Homo sapiens: one gene and its partners. The protein of the gene in region 1 purifies or fractionates together with the protein of each later gene. This does not show direct contact. Each region holds a gene or a part of one and is shown on either strand. Other genes may lie near its edges. The genes, in order: TBC1D3, PPP2R5C and FBXW8.

The links.
Region 2: the proteins of TBC1D3 (region 1) and PPP2R5C purify together in Homo sapiens (affinity purification with western blotting; one study listed by BioGRID). This does not show direct contact.
Region 3: the proteins of TBC1D3 (region 1) and FBXW8 purify together in Homo sapiens (affinity purification with western blotting; one study listed by BioGRID). This does not show direct contact.

The regions. Positions count from the first base shown.
Region 1 is NC_000017.11:38,189,688-38,194,089, reverse strand, and holds the start of TBC1D3 (TBC1 domain family member 3), read left to right. Parts: upstream 1-1,534; 5' UTR 1,535-1,645; intron 1,646-3,059; 5' UTR 3,060-3,060; coding exon 3,061-3,132; intron 3,133-3,294; coding exon 3,295-3,380; intron 3,381-4,402. UniProt on the Homo sapiens protein: Acts as a GTPase activating protein for RAB5. Does not act on RAB4 or RAB11.
Region 2 is NC_000014.9:101,904,590-101,908,235, reverse strand, and holds part of PPP2R5C (serine/threonine-protein phosphatase 2A 56 kDa regulatory subunit gamma isoform), read right to left. Parts: intron 1,835-3,646; coding exon 1,707-1,834; intron 1-1,706.
Region 3 is NC_000012.12:116,983,841-116,987,486, forward strand, and holds part of FBXW8 (F-box/WD repeat-containing protein 8), read left to right. Parts: intron 1-1,342; exon of another isoform or gene 1,343-1,365; coding exon 1,366-1,562; intron 1,563-1,813; exon of another isoform or gene 1,814-3,497; intron 3,498-3,646. UniProt on the Homo sapiens protein: Substrate-recognition component of the Cul7-RING(FBXW8) ubiquitin ligase complex, which mediates the ubiquitination and subsequent proteasomal degradation of target proteins.

The DNA of each region.
Region 1 (4,402 bases):
CTTTCCCCTCATGAGGCCCAAGTGATCCACATGGCCAGCCACAGCCCCATCCTACTGCAGGCCTGTGTGGCTGCTAGAGAGGCCAGGCTCCTTTCCGCACCCCGAGGCTGCCCGATATGCTTTCTGCATCCTGTAGAAAACTGACCCACTATTCTCATACTGGTGCAACTTCTTCCATTACCTCAAAACTGGACAACGTGAACTTGTTTCTTGTCTCTTCTTGCTAGGGCTGTCACTGGGACAGTCCGAGATGCGGGGGTGGGGGGAGACAATGGATGAATGGATGGATGAATGGACAGTAGTCCAGGGAGATGTCCCTGTGTGTCCTGAACTGGGACCTTCCTCCAATGAGAAGCCTTCCTGAGTGAGTTTATACAGTCATCCCTTGGTATCCATGGATTAGTTCTAGGGTCCCCGGGGATGCCAAAATCCATGGATCCTCAAGTCTCTGACATAACATGGCCTAGTATTTACATATCAGCTATGCACATCCTCCCGTAGACATTAGACCATCCCTGGATTATTCATGATGTGTAATACAATGCAGATGCTACATAAATGGTCGTGATACTGGATTCTTTAGGGAATAATGACAAGAACAAACTCTGCACATGTTCAATAGAAACATAACCGTCCAATTTATTTTCTGAATATTTTCCATCTGCTGTTGCTGAATCTACAGATGCAGAGCTCCTGGATACGAGAGCCAAGTGTGCTTTGAGAGTAGGGTGGGTGAGGTTGCTAATGAGTACAGGGGAGCAGGTGTTGATCAGGAGGACCCTGCACTGGGGCATCTGGACGTCCTGCCTCAGGACTTGAGACTCCAGTTGGATGGCACAGGCAGACTCAGCCCAGGTCAAAGCCGTCCCCTTGAAGTTTCTTTTTATCCCAAGCTCTTTCTGGCCCCTGGAATTTGGCATCCCCTAGGCCCTGTGTGGAAGGACAGATGAACCAGGTTTTAGATAACATGTCTAGAAGAGTGAGCCCCTACTGTGTGCCCGGCACTTTCCCCACAGGATCCTCTAGCTAGAATATCCAAGGGTCATGGAGAGAAATACCCAGTTAAAATATCAGAAATGAAAAAGCGATACCATTAGAGACACTAAAAAGACCATTAGGTAATAGTACTAGCTTTTGTATTCTGAGATCCAACAGCAGCAGTCACTTCCCTCCACCGCTATGTGTATCCCAGGACCACCCTGGGCGGGGAGGGCTGAGGTTAGGGAGCAGCCATGGATGCTCTGATGCTGGCCCTGGGCCTCGGGGGTGACAGTGATGAGGAACTGGGTGCACACATGAGTGGGGCAGCCGGGCCTGGCCAGAGAAGCAGCACACACGTGCACAGATGTGTTTACCCACATACACATGTGCACGCACGTGCACAAACACATTGCAGGCAGGCATGTTGACGCCTCAGGCAGCGGAGGACCCTGACTCTGGGCGCTGCTGACCCGGGCAAGGCCCCACTGTGATTCGTGCCATGACCTCAGAATGTCACTGGTGCTTAGCACCTATCTGCTCTCTGGTCTGCCTCAGTGGTCTACAGCAGTTACACACAGGCAGTGGTATCTGTGAGCAGCTCTGTGGACTCAAAGGTTTTCTCCCTGAGAGGCATGACCCAGGCCAGCTGATTCATCAGAATCAGGTGAGCGTGACCTGCTCTCTTCCCTCCAGGCGGACTTGGGGGCAGTGGCTACGGTGCGGGCGGTGTTGGCCTCTGTGGGGCAGCTACCGAGGAGGGTCATCCCTGAGCACTCACCAGGCGCCCGTTCTACACTGCCCGTGTAGACGATTGGCTCTTTCGTCTCCATGGTGGCTTCGTAGAGTGGGTGCTGTTCCCAAATGTCCCCATTCGACAGATGAGACGTCTGGGGTCAGAGAGGCAGTAACCGGCCTGGGAATCCGGACATGACCCTGAGTTTTGCTCTCAGCCCTGCCGTGTGCTGTGCTGGAATTCAGGCCTGAACCCTGTGACCTCCCTGCCCTAGATCCCAAATCTGCCCAGGTTTCCCATCCCGATGGGGCAGAGCCTGGTCCTGGCAGAGCCACTGGTACAGAGCCACTGACGGTCCTCAGAACACCTCTGTGCCCTAAGCTGGGTCCTGATGGTCGCTGTGGGCCCCACTGAACACACATGGTCCCTTGTCCGGGGGAGCCTGCTGCCCTTGGGCAGCTGTGGAAAATGAAGGAGCCCTGGAGGGCTGGCTGAGGGGAGACTATCTTCCCTTGTGTTCAAAGGGGTCCGGGCACTAGGGTTCTCCCCAGGTATTTCTTGCTCTGCGTGGTCCTCTTGAGGCCTCGCCCTCCTTTTGCCTCGAGTATTCCCAGGAGGGACGGTCCATCCAGCTGTTCTCCAGGACCAAGGACCCACTGTTCTTCCTCAGTGACCCAGGAAAATGAAGCCTCCTCCTGTTGGGACGGCTCAGAATGGTGGACTCCACAGTCCCTCCGCGAGAGACGTGGTTTCCATGCGTACAATAGATCTTTCTCATCCCCCAAACCCAACACCCTCCTGCTCAACAGGCGTTATTCCTAAAGTGGCTTCACTGTTCAGACTGAAGAGCCACGGTAGCCAAAGTGATGAGCGGAGTAGAACCGAGCAGTCGGGAGAGATCTTGTTCCCTGTAGGAAACTGGGCATCGCTGAGGCCCTGAGCATCCCAGGAGGCCGATTGCACAGAGACCTCTGGTCGCTGACCCCAGTCTGCCTCCACATCCCTGGAATAGCCCATCATGGGCCCTTCACCCTTGGCAGGTGGAAACCATTCAACCTGCTGGGGCCAGTGTGTCCCCATTTCATGGCATTGGGGGACAACAGGATTCTCTGTCTAGGTCCCACTGTACTCAAGTCCTTGGGAAGATGCCCACCCCTGCTTGGGACTTGAGACTCCAGAGACTGGAGCAGCTGTGGGCCACTGGGTCTGGCCCCTTTTTCCCTGGGGGCGGCGGTGGAATGGGGGTTACGCAGCCAGCCAGCATCTGGGAGCCCGGCGAGAGCGGTTCAGGTGTTCTCCGAAGCCGCCGCGTACGGTGTGACCTTTAGACAATTCTGTCTCACAGGATGGACGTGGTAGAGGTCGCGGGCAGTTGGTGGGCACAAGAGCGAGAGGACATCATTATGAAATACGAAAAGGTACAAGTCGGTCTGCTTCTTGGAGGGAGGCCTCTTCCAGTGTGCCCTGGTCAAAGGGTCCTGGGCTCCCTAGGAGCACAGGGCAGGGACGGGTGGCCAATGCCCCCAGGCCCTTGCACCCTTTACCTTGGACCCCTCACCAAGGCTCCCTCTGGGCTACAGGGACACCGAGCTGGGCTGCCAGAGGACAAGGGGCCTAAGCCTTTTCGAAGCTACAACAACAACGTCGATCATTTGGGGATTGTACAGTGAGTCCTCTGCACTCCCCTCACCCCTAAAGCACCTGTCTCAGCTCAGGGATGGGTTTGCTTTTAGAAAGGCCTTTCTGACGCAGGACATGTCTCACCAGGTCGGGTCAACCTCCTTTCCAGGGACAGAACTCCTCCCTGACTCCCCTGCAGGTCCAGCCCGAGGTTGTTAGGCCAGAGGTGTGGGGCCCATCTAGGGAGCCGGTGGGAATGGAGACTGGGCTAGGTCAGGCCCCTGGGCGCTCAGCAGTTCTGTCGGCAAGTGAGCACAAGAGGAGCGGGGCAGCCTGAGGGTCTGGCCCTGTCTACTTGGAGACAAACCCGGTGAGATGCAAGGGTTATGGCCACAGGGTGAGGGGACTCCTGGCCCAGCCTCAGGGCTGTTGTGCAGCAGGTCTCTGAGGGCCCACCTGCCCCTGTTCTCCCCCATTCCCCTAGAGCTACAGCCCTCACTGTCCCGTGAGGGGAAAAGGCATGGTGACAATGGGGGCTGTAGCCCTAGGAGAACGGGGGAGAAGATGGGCAGGGCCCCGTTCTGGGCATCTCACGGTGAGGCCAGGGAGGCAGCAGGGCTCGCGGCTAAAGACCTGGGTCTGGTGCTGGGAAGGGATCTGGGGCCGGGTAAGAGGAGCCCAGCCAGGAGCCCATCCCTCAGGGATCACAGGATGGAGAGACAGAGGATCCCTGGGGAGGTAGGGCGGGAGGGAGCTGACGAGCCGTGCCACTTCTGAAACGCAGGGTGTGTGGCTCGGGTGCAGGGAGAGGCAGGTGGATGCTGGGAGGTCAGAACCTGCAAGGGCCTTGGGGCTGTCAAGTGGGGTGGGCCCCTGGTGCAGCCAGAGTACACCGGGCAGGTCTCAGGGCAGGCTCCCTTGACCCTGGCGGGGGGATGTGGTCACTCCCTGAGGGACTCCTGTCAGGGCCCGGTCGCCCACCCTGGGCGGCCCCCATCCCATCTCAGGGCTAACCTTTCTCAGCTCCAGCAGAAAGCACCACCTCGAGTCCAGGACGGGCAGCCCCAT
Region 2 (3,646 bases), on another chromosome or scaffold:
CTAAGTGACAGCAAATGCTTACTTGGTGCCTATCATAAGCCAGGTACTTTACGCATATTAACTTTATCTTAATCCTCACAACCAAGTGAAGATTGTTGCAAGGCAAAGCACTTTACTTTCTCAGTTTTTCCAAAGAGAAACTGTGGCTAAGAAAGACCTGGTGAGAGCTAACTTCCCCGGGTTCAGACAGCTGCTCAGGAGGAAGGCAGGAATGTGAACCAAAGTCATCCTCACTCTGATCTGCCTGCCCTTCTCTGTTGAATTTCTGGGCGGCAACCCTCAGAAGACTTGACGCGAGTGGACTGGCTGGACGCTCGCTCGGGGGTCTGGCTCAGAGCTCCAGGGCTAACACCTGTCTGGCTGCTGCCCTGCAGAATTCTGGGAAGGAGGCAGTGCCACCTGCAGCCTCGAGCGGACAAGGAGAGAGGGTGCATGGGAGAGGGCTGGTCCGCCGGCAGCAGGGTGACTGTGCAGCACAGCCAGAGGGGTGCCCAATAGACACTGCGAGTTAGGAGACCGCACCGGGCCAGAGTGCCGCTCACCAGCTTTGGGACCGCAGACTGGGCTGCGAATGCCCTCCAAGTCTCACCTTCCTCACCCATAAACTAAGGGAGGAGGGCTGGATAGCATAACCTGCTCTTCTTTAAGTTCTGAGTTATAATTACAATATACAATGGAAAGAGATGAAAGAAGGTGGGGAAAGAAAAACTCAGTCGTATTTCTTTAAATAGCAGGAATATTAGATGATACCATATTAATAAATAATATGGCCTGGGCGCAGTGGCTCACGTCGTCCCAGCACTTTGGGAGGCTGAGGCAGGTGGAATACTTGAGTCCAGGAGTTCGAGACCAGCCTGGGCAACATGGCAAAACCCCATCTCTACAAAAAATACAAAAATTAGCCAGGCGTAGCGGTGGGTGCCTGTAGTCCCAGCTACTCAGGACCCTGAGGCAGGAGGTTTGCTTGAGCCCAGGAGGTCGAGGCTGAAGTGAGCCATGATCGTGACACTACACTCCAGCCGGGGGGACATAGCAAGACCCTGTCTAAAAATAAACAAATAAAATACAAATTTTAAAAAAGAAAAATAAATAAATAATGTGGCACCCATATCAACAGTTTCCTTTTAAAGTCTCAGAAGACTATTGCTCAGTAAACGGATTTATTCATCCTCTTTAAGTCAAAAGATGAAGGAGCGGAGTAGGAGGAAATGTTTTTGGCTGCTGGGACTATGGGGCTGTGTTCAGATCACCTGGCTTCCCTCTTCTTCTCCAGGTAGTGACCACTGTGGGGTGGTTCTTGGGTCTCACACAGGGGCTCATCCAGGGTGCATGTCAGCAGAGCTCAATAGACACCCCGAGAATGCAGTGGCCACTGTGCCCCCGCCGGGGCTGAGCCCCACTGGGCTCTGCAGAGACCTTCAGCTTCTCTGCAGGACGCTCAGGAAGAGGCCTAGAAACTGCTGCTACTGGGAGGTGGCTGCAAACCAATGTGCCTCTATACTGGCAGGAATGAAGGTATAAGGTGGTAAATTCAACGGCCACAGAAACAACCCACGCTGCTACTTAATTTATGAGTCCACAAAGCAACTGACCTTCTTGTTTTTTAATTGATATTTAAAATTCTGATATTTATTCTTACTGAAGTAGCAGTAAAACGTGCCATATTTTAAAATGACTGAAAAAGATGGCAGCCAGTTCTTTCTTACTTGTTCCAATGGGTCTTTGAGTTGCGGTACAAGGAAGGAAACATGATGGGCAGAATCTTCGCTGCGTTGTCACTGATTAAACTCATGATGTATTCATTATTCCAGTAATAGAGAGCTCGCTCTGCCACCTGAAAGACACAAGTGGATGGCTTGCTGGAGGTTGTGCCTGAGACATCAGGTGGCTGTCCTTGCTGTTAAACCTGTGAGTCGGGTAATGAACTACCTTGGACCAGAAAATTATGATTATTTCTACAAATTCAAAATATTCTAGACTGTAACCTGTAACCCTGAAGAGCCTTCAACAAAGAGGCAGACAACTTCTTGTACATCAACTCATCAAGAACATTGTCACCTATTTCTCTACTTATTCCGTAAACATTTATGCTAGATGCTGGCTAGATGCTGAGGAGACAACTCAAAGGAGGCCATTCCACCTATCCACCCGCCTCCCCCATCTGTCAGGTCAAGAGGGCGTGCTGTGTTCTGCTGAGCATTCAGCACTGAACAAAGCAAGGCAGAAATCCTTGACTCCACGGAGCTTACATTCTAGTGGGGAGGAGACAGGTGATGGATGATTATTAATTTACTAGAAACGATAAGTCACATACAAAGGGCAGCAGGGCAGGAGAACAGGCAGCGGCGGTGCGTGTGCGGTGGGGTGGCTTCAATGGGGAGGAGGTGACATCTGAGCAAGGACCAGAGGGAGGAGAGGTCCTGAGTTGTCAGCACGGGGCTGGCTGAGGACCACTGCAGAGGGCAGTGGGGGCATGAACAGTAGGAGGGCAGGGGAACAGGGCCTGAGTGCACTGGCGCTTACTCACGGGAAGCCACTAGAGGGTGGTTCCCCCATTTTTCTTTTCTTTTTTTTTTTTGAGATGGATTTTTGCTCTTGTTGCCCAGGCTGGAGTGCAATGGCGTGATCTTGGCTGACTGCAACCTCTGCCTCCCGGGTTCAAGCGATTCTCCTGCCTCAGCCTCCTGAGGGGCTGGGATTACAGGCGCACGCCACCACACCCGGCTTTTTTGTATTTTTAGTGGAGACAGGGTTTTGCCATGTTGGTCAGGTTGGTCTCGAACTCCTGAGATCAGGTGATCCACCTGCCTTGGTCTTCCAAAGTGCTGGGATTACAGGCGTGAGCTACCACGCCTAGCCCATCCATTTTTGTTTTTTAAAAAGAGATGGAGTTTCACTCTGTTGCCCAGGCTGGAGTGCAGTGGTGCTATCTCGACTCACTACAACCTCTGCCTCCTGGGTTCAAGCGATTCTCCTACCTGAGCCTCCTGAGTGGCTGGGACTATAGGCATGCGCCATCGCACCTGGCTAATTTTTGTATTTTTAGTAGAGACGGGGTTTCACCATGTTGGCCAGGCTGCTCTCGAGCTTCTGACCTCAGGTGATCCACCCGCCTTGGCCTCCCAAAGTGCTGGGACTACAGGCGTGAGCCACTGCACTCAGCCCCCCATTTTTATTACTAAAACTTTCAAAAACAGACAAAGCTGCAAGACTAACATAATGAGTGCCCACCTCCCTCCACCCAGATTCAACACTGTTCATACCCTACCCTATTTGCTTTTTCTCTCCGTAGTAAACCAGCACACAAGTGCACGTTCCACAGAACTATCTGGGAGTTCGAGGCAGTCACCAGGACACTTGGCCTGTCCCCATCACAGCATGTATGCCTCTGGGAAGAGGAGCTTCACCTGTATAACTACTGTCAACACCCTTCATCTGCACACAACTCACAGCAGCACTTGGAGGCTCTGAGCAGCATGGGGCTGACGCTTCTCCTGCCAGAAGCCTACAGCTTAGAGATCCTGAGGTTGTGGTGCGGTGTGTATGGGTGGGATGCTGAGAGAATGGCAGGTGAGCCTGTGCCAGGCTCAGGAATCAGGGCTGATTCCTCAGAGGCAGTGAGCTGGGATGAACTTTGCAGAAAAGG
Region 3 (3,646 bases), on another chromosome or scaffold:
GTGGCCGGTCTCCTTTCATCTGCCTCACAGTCCTATGTAGTAGGTAATGTTGTCTTCAACTTTACAGAAAGGCTAACAGGCTCAGAGCTGTTAAGCAGCTCCCCTAAGTCCGTCAGCTAACAAGTGCTGGAGCTGGATTTGAACTCAAATAGTCACAAACTGTTATCTCCACACATTTATTTCTTGGTGAATTTTGAAAAATTGAATCAATTGGAATTGGAGCAAGGCATTAACCAGCCTAATGCAGAGAGTAATCATTTTCTTGGGTAAATCTTCGAAGGGAAGGAAATAGCTTGGGAATGATAAAAAGAAATTATTTTTGAGGAAAGAAGAATCAATGAAATGCTAAGTACAGAAAAGGTTATCTGACTGGAAAAGCATAAGCTCCTGTAGACCACTGGTCCTAAACTCCAGTGGACATCCCCAGAGTTACTGGTGCCTGACAGTCTGCATTTCTAATAAGTCGCCACGTGGTACTGATGCTACCGGTCTGGAAACCACCCTGGAGAAAGGGTGTGTGGCCAGTGTGTGAAAGAGGAATTAATCTGGGTAGCAGCATTCCAGGTGCTGGGAGAAGAGTGGAAAATCGGCATTTTTGGCAAGTGTGGGATATTGAAGCACAGGTTTTAGAGCTGTGCAAAATAAAGCACTGCTGCTAACAGAGGCTTTAGGAGGATGGCGCTGAGGAAGGATGTGAAATTCAGGCTGAGCATCCCTAATCCAAAATTCCAAAATGCTTTGAAACTGTTTAAGCACTGACATGATGCTACATGTAGGAAATTTCACATCTAACTTCATGTGATGGGTTTGTAGCCAAAACACAGCCAAAACTTTGCTTCATGCACAGAATTATTTAAAATATTGTATAGACCAGGTACGTTGGCTCACACGTGTAATTCCAACACTTTGGGAGGCAGAGGCAGGAAGATTGCTTGACCCCAGTAGTTCAAAAAAGCAGCCTGGGCAACATAGTGAGACTGTGTCTCAGCTAAATTAAAAATTAGCTGGGTATGGTGGCACACGCCTGTAGTCCTGTCTATTTGGGAGGCTGAAGCAGGAAGATCACTTAGGCCCATCAGTTCAAAAATGCAGTGAGCTATGATAGCACCACTGCACTCCAGCCTGGGCGAAGAGTGAGGCACTGTTTCTAAAAAATAAAAAAGTAAAATAAAATATTGTATAAAATTACCTTCAGGCCATGTGCATCAGGTATATATGAAACGTAAGTGATTTCGTGTTTAGACTTGGGTCTCATTTCCAAGGTATCTCCGTTAAAAAATTTTCCTTTGTGTTGCATGTTTTTAAAATAATTGAACATATTAAGTAAATTTAAAATTGTTACCTGCATTGTTTCTTGCTGCATAGGGTTTCTTAATATTTGGGATTTAAGGACCGGAAAGTACCCTGTTCATCGTTTTGAGCACGATGCAAGAATACAGGCACTAGCCCTCAGCCAGGACGATGCAACCGTGGCCACAGCTTCTGCTTTTGATGTCGTGATGTTATCCCCCAATGAGGAGGGGTACTGGCAGATAGCTGCGGAATTTGAAGTTCCGAAACTGGTGAGCTTTTTAGTCTGGTCATCTTATTTTCTATTCTTAGAATCTCTGGGTCTAATGTAAGCACGTACTAATGGTGTTGGTAACTCCCATTCACTCAGAGCTTCCTGCGGGCCTTACCTCCATAAGTCTAACTACAGCCTTACAAAATAGGTAGTAGCATTTTCCCCATTTACCAAGAAGCCACTTCAGGCTGCTTAGAGCAGTGAACTGACTTGCCCCAGTTCTCAGAGGTAAGAAGTTACGATTCAAACCTCAGGGCTGACTTCAGGGCCAGAGCTGCTCATCACTGTGGTTCCTTGGCCTTCTTCAGACTAACACGGTGGAATCTCACCCTTGGGAATCAAAGATCAGTTTGACCTAATATATAAGTGAGAATGAGTTCAGTGGTGTTATCCCAGTCCATCTGGGAAGGAAGGTTTCCATTCCTACACTTTCTTCATCCCAAGACTGTCTCACCTGAAATTTAAAGTAACTCTTGCGTGAAGATAGATTTAAGTTGGTGTTAATTGGGTAGCCATGTTCCAGGATGTCATGTGTGCAGCTCAGCCAGCCTTAAGAATTCTTTATGTCGAGCTTATTTCTGAGTTCATTGGTACAGGAACCTCTAGATTTGTAGAGTGGGAGATGATTTGGTGTTAAGAAGGAAGTGCTCAAATCTGTCTATGCTGAGTTAGGATTTAATTTAAACAAACTTGATTTTGGCACTGGTAGGAGAGTGAGCAGAAAAGCCAACACTGAGTGATGAATTGAGGGCCTGACCTGGAACCAATCCTGTTCCTCCCTCTTTCTGTCTGTTGGGAATCTTCTTAGACTAGAATAACTTAGAAAGCCATGGCATCACTGCTTCACCTCCAGGAGCGTCTGCACTTTGAGTATAGTGCTCCCCTAAAATGGCCTGATGCTGTCAGCTCATCTGGGTTTTATTAGAAAAATGTGAAAGTACATTTCTGTTCTCAAAACTTCCATAGTACTTACTATTTAGTCTGTGATTAAAGAATACTGTGTCACAAGGTCAGGAGATCGAGACCATCCTGGCTAACACGGTGAAACCACGTCTCTACTAAAAATACAAAAAATTAGCCGGGCGTGGTGGTGGGCGCCTGTAGTCCCAGCTACTCAGGAGGCTGAGGCAGGAGAATGGCGTGAACCCAGGAGGCGGAGCTTGCAGTGAGCCGAGATCGCCACTGCAGTCCAGCCTGGGCAACAGAGCGAGACTCCGTCTCAAAAAAAAAAAAAGACAAAAAAACAACAAAAAAACGAATACTGTAGACCAGCAATCACTGTATGGACCCAGATACTTACTTAAGATGCCAGTTTCTCTGTAAAGTGCAAATCCTGCCTTGGCAATAAGGTGGCATCCTGGCACAGACTGGAAGCTTTTTGAACTAGTTTACAGCCCCCAGCAAATGGCACCACCACTGTCAATCTGAGCCTCTTGGTCTGTCAGAAAGCCAACACGGAGATAAAGTTAAAGGGCTAGACGGAGGATATCAGTTGTAGGAAAATGAGACATGATTTGGGGGAGTGAGAGGAACCGAGCAGCCATTGTTCAAGGCGGGTTTTATGCACGTTTTAGGAATTATTTTTCACTTTGAGTGAAAGGTTCCCACAAAATGCTCTGAGTATCCTTGGAAAAGGCACCCCTGGCCCGAAGAGCCAAGCCAGTTTTGTCTTGTCCATATACGCCCCTGAATGGCAGTGGCAGTGTTCCCAGGTCTGCGATATTAGCCTAGTGCGGCTGTCCTTTGTGATGGACCCGCAGCTTGCGGAGCTGGGCCCGAGTATTAGCAGAGTCCCCCGGATGTTGACGCTCCCTCCAGCTCTTCTGGACCGTGTTCTGGAGGCCGGCTTTGAACTCTTTGGCATATGGTCAGGGCAGCGCTGTCCTTTCACACTGTGGATTTTCATAATTAGTGTGGCTCACCTTCTATGTGTCCTCTCGTGATTTACTCGCAGAGGCGAAAGCCTGTTGCGAACGGCACCGCGGAGAAATGGGCCGCCTGTGGATGGACAGAATCAAATTATTCTTGAAAAGTGCGTCTCAGACTCGTGCACATTAGAGAAAGTGCCGGCGGTGACGCAGT